Linked DNA regions of Homo sapiens: region 1 is linked to region 2. Evidence: fine-mapped expression QTL. A gene starts in region 2. The other region holds a variant in brackets. All regions are shown on one strand. Distances are from middle to middle.

Region 1 (2,917 bases), 47 kb before region 2:
ATGATCCGCCTGCCTCGGTCTCCCAAAGTGCGGGGATTACAGGCGTGAGCCACCGCACCTGACCATACTTAGATCTTTTTTAATGCCTTTAGTTCATTAAAAAAATAAATTTTTATATTTAACCTTTAATTATTTGGTTTTTAAGGGTTTCTAAAATTTTTCTTTTCTAAAAGGCCATTTCAGCTTCAGATGGTTTTTTAGTTTAATAGTGTACTTTAATTCTCACCTGCCATAAATACAATATAGTAATCCCACCTTATTTGTGGGGGATATGGTCCAAGACTCCCAGTGTATACCAGAAACTGCAGATAGTATTGAACCCTAAATGGCTTTTTTTTTTCTATACATACTTACTGTGATAAAGTTTTTTGTACTTAGAGTGGGTTTTTCTTTCTGGCAATGAATTTTAGGTCAGTCTTGCCCACTGCTAGCTCTCTTCTCTTTACCTCTCATTCTCAGATTGTCCTTGCTCTCCTTGATAGCTTATGGCTAGAATGTGAGAGACAGCTATATGGGATTTGGTGACAGTGTGGGCTTTGTATAGTACATTTGTTCTTCTTATTCTTACTGCTTTTAAAGGATGTGTTGAGAGATTTGGATTTCTGTAGCCACTGTTATCCCCTCTGACTGTGTTTTATTACCACATTCTTTATATTTCCTCTAGAGATATTTTCCTTTTTTTTTTCATATTTAAGTCAGTTTTCTGTCCACTGACTTCCATGGCCAATTTTAAATAATTGGTGTGCAAACACCGCATGTTCTCACTTATAAGTGGGAGCTGAACAATGTGAACAGTTAGACACAGGGAGGGGAACAACACACACTGGGACTGTAGCAAGGTGCGGGGGGAGGGAGAACATCAGGAAAAATAGCTAATGCATGGTGGGCTTAATAACTAGGTGATGGGTTGATAGGTATAGCACATGTTTACATAGGCACACATTTACCTATGTAACAAAACTGCACATCCCGCACAGGTACCCTGGAACTTAAAATAAAAATAAATAAATAAATAGATAAATAAATAAATGGTGTGAAAACTTACAGGTTTTCTGAGAAGTCTCAGTTGACAATTACGTTTTACAACTTCCCTCACTTCTATATTTAGGGCTACACCGAGCTTAGGCCCCATACTGAAGAGGACCAAAAGGGGGAAAAAAAAGAAATAAAATCACTGCTGGTTGAATGGCATTTAAAATTCTGCTCTTTCCTGACTTGCATGCTATGTGCTTTTTGGAGTTGTCAAATAACTGGGCCATACATTCTGTCCAGACTTCATAGTTGGATTCAATGGGATGACATCTGTGACATGTATTTACTCCATCTTACCTGGAACTAGAGCCATAAAACATGTCATTTTAATACTAGCAGCTATAAGCTAAGTGTCATAGAGAG[C/T]CTCAGCTGTATGGCCCTATATGTTGCCTGGGTCCAAGTAGTTCCATTTTTGCTTCTGATCCTCAGTAGCAGGAAGGTTGTTGAGGGAACTGCAAGTCCCATTAACCTAAGGATAAGGCAGGTTAAAACTTCTAGAGAAAGACATCAATGGTTAAGTGTGGACTCTCTAACTTCTTTTTGTGCCCCTAATTGACCACCTCCTGGGTTGTTTGTGGTTGAAATATAAATCAGCTTAGGGTGTTATAAATTTTGAATTACCAAAATTGTGATGATTACGTGGGTTGCAGTGGTGGTAAGGTGGTAATTTTGTTATAATCCCAAAAATACTTTGTAGTCCCTATTACACTTTGGATCAGGACAGCCTGAGTTCCTGTAGGGAAGATAATGCCTTCGTGTTTTCAAGATACCACCAAGATTTAGTGTTAGGAGCCCTTTCCTTCAATGTTGTTATAGTTGCAAAGGAAGCTATAGATTGTGCAGATGGGTTATAGATTCTGTATTGTCCTTTTCTCTAAAGAGTCATATGGGATGATTTAAGACTCTACAGAATTGAATTTAAGGGATTAGATAAGAAAACCCATCTGTTCTTTTTAACTGTAGTTTACCCATTGTTAAATCCTTTGAGTGTAAATGATCTAGTGCTAAATTCTCTCATTTATGGCTTTTTATCCTTGTCTTTGTGTTTTACAGAATGCTATCTTCTTTGAGAAGTCAAATTGTCAGGATCAGGAATGTATGTTTTCTTCCATCTGGATTCTAGGTAAGCTGCAGTTACTTCAGTATTTTGAAGTATCCCTTCTCTTTCCCAGACTCCATCTCATCAGAGTACCTCCCATTCTTTGTGACATTCAGTCCTTTTATCAGACAAGGAGAGAAGTAGAATTTCAATGAGAATTCATACATGTACTCAGCAGATGCTTATTAAGCACCAACTTTGTACCTGGCATTACTGTATATGGTAAGGAAAGATAAAACAGACATCCTTGTCATATTTTAGCAATAGACAATAAACTGAATAAAGTGAATTATATAGTATGTTAGAAGGTTTTAAGTGCCATGAAGAAAAGTAAAGCAGAAAAGGGGAATAGTGAATGCTGGGGCATGAAGACTATTCACAACTTTAAACAGAGTGGTTAGGAAAGGCCTTCCTCAGAATTGACATCTGAAAAAATAGTCTTTGAAGGAATTAAGAGAAATTCATACACACATCTGGAGGAAGAAAGCTGTAGGCAGAAGAAAGAAAGGGCAAAGGCCCTAAGGATAGTATGTTTGGATGAGGAACAGCTAGGAAGCCATTGCGGCTGGATTAGAACATGCAAAGAGAAGAATAATATAAAAGGGTGTCAGAGAGGCAGTGACAGGCTAGCAGGGCAGCTCAAGTGGGCCTCTTGGGCTATTGTGAAAGTAAGAAATAAGAGTGGTTTGGACTGGAATGTAACAACAGAAGCTGGTGAGAAGTGGTTAGACTCTGGATGTGTTTTGAAATGGAGCCAACAAATTTGCTGATGGCTTGATTGTGAGG
Region 2 (2,917 bases):
GAAATGGAAGGGGCCACCCAGGCCCTCAGGAGTCCCTGACAAGGGAAGGTCCCTCCATGCTCTCTGAGGGTGGCGGGGCTCCAAAGATCCTGGCCAGGAGCCCTTTGTTGGAGCGGGCCTTGTCCTGGGCAGTTGCCAGGCGAGCCCGTTCACGTCCCCCTGGCCGTGCTGCTTTACGGGCCCTCAGTTCCTGCTCAGTAGGACGCTGGGCAAATGTCCAGGAGCCATCTGGGCGAGCAGGGTCCCCATCGGCCGCAAGAAAGCGTTGTCCCCGTTCCACACTTTGAAGATAGAAGTCGGTCTCACGCTTGGCTTGAGCAACCTCCGCTCTCAAGCGCTGCCTGCGCACCTGGCGCTCAAAGGCGAGGTGCTCGCTGAGGTGGGACCAGGTGAAACGGTGCAAGTACTGTGGGCAGAAAAGAAGAAAAGATCAGGATAGTGCAGATTAGGGAGAAAGATGAGACAAGGGGACAAGGCCAATGAGAGGCCATGGGGATACTTGGGCCAGAGTTGGGGAGAAGGGAGGGTGAGAGGTGTGGCAGAAAGATCTATCTTCTCACCTTGAGGTTCCAAAGATCATAACGGAAGGGGCTGCGCCTGCGGGCACCCATAGGCGTGTTGTGTAGACTGGCCGCCACGCGCTTGGCTATGCGCTTGTCACGGAACTCCACCCATCCCTCGGTGTAGTCCTTGGTGTAGGACCGCTTTTTTCCTCCGGCAGCTGCTGCTGCCTTCTTCTTGCGTCTCACGAACCGGTCTGCGCGCCAAAGACAAAGACCCGTCCAGGACGCCTATGCAGCACTCACTCAAAAGCACCTCCCACTGCCCGCAACGTTCTTCACATCTGCCAGTGGGAGTCCCACCTGAAGAGTTTTTGCCCAGGAGGAAGGGAACTGTAAATCGCACCCTTTCCTCTAGCTAACTCAATTCTTTCCTTAATTGTCCACTCCTTAATCTGGCCAGCCCTGAACGCTGCTTAAAACCGGCACAAGTCCTCAGCCTCAATGTAAAATTGAGGGTGGAAAGAAGAGGGGCGGTTGATCAAATAGTTTCTTGACCTAGGCAGCAATGCTAAAGAGTTATGTTCAGTTTTGTAGAAAAGCTGACGAGACTTTTACTCAGGTTGTATTCATGTAACAAACCAGTAAACAGGTCCGGAAAGAGAGGTGAACAGAGCCGGGATAAGAACACAAATAGTAACAATCCGAGAACTAAAGAACCACCAGACACACTGCGCTACCCACTCTCCCCATATCCCCTCCGCCCGCCCACCCCAGCATCCTCACAGACTGATTCACCAGCCAGGAGCCAAGCACCGCACTCCCCACCCCCAAAATCCAGCAACTCGTGCCTCAGCCTCGCGCAGCGAAGCAACAGGACATGCATGCTTGCACCCCGCCAGCGAGCGACAACCTCCTCCTGTCACCGTCAGGGCCTGCATACTTACCCTCAGCCTGAAAGAAGACGCGTCCGACCTCGCCATAGGCGCTGAGAAGGTTGCGGACGTGCAGGGGCCGGAAGCGCGGCGGGATATGGCCCAGGTACACAATACCTGGCACTACCCGTTTCTTGCTGCCACAGGCCGCTTCTTCGGATTCCTCCTGCTCCTCCTCCGCATCTAGTGTCTGTTCTGTCCCTTCCAGCGGCTCTTGCTCCGTTGCGGCCTTCTCCGATTCCTCTGCCTCCATGTTGACTGACACGAGCGGCACGACGGCCGTAAAGTGCCTTGCCAACTGACGCAAAACGCGTGCGACGGCCTGAGACGAGGGGGCGGGTCCAAGGTGGTGATGACAAATGAAAGGAAATGATTGGGCAATACAGTCGGGTCCAGGGGAAGGCCGAGGGGAGAGGGAGGAAGTGGTGTGTCAGGTCGGAAGCCTGATTCAGAGCGTGGAAGCGGGATGGGAAACTTGGGTTAGGCTCAGATTCCCGGTCAGATCTCCAACTCAGGACAGGCAGAACCAGAAAAGGCAGATCCCCAAATATAACCTACCCTATAGAACGCCTTGTCGAGACGCTAAAAGGCGGGTTGATGCCGGCTTTTTAGGGAATTTTGCAGAACAATTTTAGAGAAGTTTCTATGTGTTCTAGCGATCAAAATAGCATTTTATTCAAGGGCCCCGGGTGCGATTCCAGCTGAGGAATGACTCACCTTTTAAAGTTTATAAATTTCATTTAAAAATTTTGAGTTTTGAGGTTTTAACTATTTCTGGAAATTTACCTCGGAATTTTGAATATTTTAAAATTTAATTTTGAAAACAGTTCAACTTTGGAAATTTAATTAGATTTAATTTTTGAAAATTTAAGTTGTGAACTTTCAGTTTAATATTTTACATTTGATTTTGTGAATGTCTGAAAATTTAAATGTGTGACAATTATTTGAAGAATTTGTTTGGCATCTATTACACGTGTGTATTGATACATTATCCATATGCATACTTATGTTGCAAATACTTGTCAGAGGCGCACAAGCCTCCAATTCTGGCGACCCCCCGGCGGCGCGCTTATTTCTGCTCTCCCTGGGTCTGTCCTCAGATTCCCTATCAGATCACAAACCACTTTTCCTTCTATGACCTACGCAACCGCAGAACGGACCGGGCCACGGCGGTCCTGCTCCCACCAGGCGGCCTGCGGACCATCCCTAAGCCAAGCTCAGGGCAGTTTTCCCCGCGCGGGCTCGGGTCCTCAGTCTCTTATCGTCGCCCGAGGGCGCGACCAGCAGGGGGCGCCGTCCCCACCCTTGAGGCGTTTCAGTTCTTCCCATCGGCGCCAGCGACAAGCTGACTGCAAAGGACAGTGCTGGGAACCGCGTACAAGTAATCCGGTTAGCTTTCTGGAAGCAGCCCGGGGCGAGTTTGATGACTATCAACATAAATCCGTCCTTGCTGCGGCCTGACAAAATTTCCCATCTCGCTCC

Evidence for each region.
Region 1: its variant is fine-mapped to the expression of ABT1 in whole blood (INTERVAL, PIP above 0.99).

Annotation. Positions count from the first base shown.
Region 1 is chr6:26,642,897-26,645,813 of GRCh38, reverse strand. ZNF322 (zinc finger protein 322) reads left to right here. Exons shown (of 4, transcript NM_024639.5): 3 at 2,086-2,155. Among named protein-coding and RNA genes, the nearest start is that of ZNF322, 15 kb to the left of the region's middle. The variant C/T (reference allele first, on the strand shown) is at 1,396.
Region 2 is chr6:26,595,754-26,598,670 of GRCh38, reverse strand. It overlaps ABT1 (activator of basal transcription 1), which reads right to left and starts at 1,718. Exons shown (of 3, transcript NM_013375.4): 1 at 1,448-1,718; 2 at 561-757; 3 at 1-406. The coding sequence starts at 1,688. The coding sequence ends at 26. RefSeq lists enhancers at 1,430-1,869, 2,427-2,586, 2,687-2,836.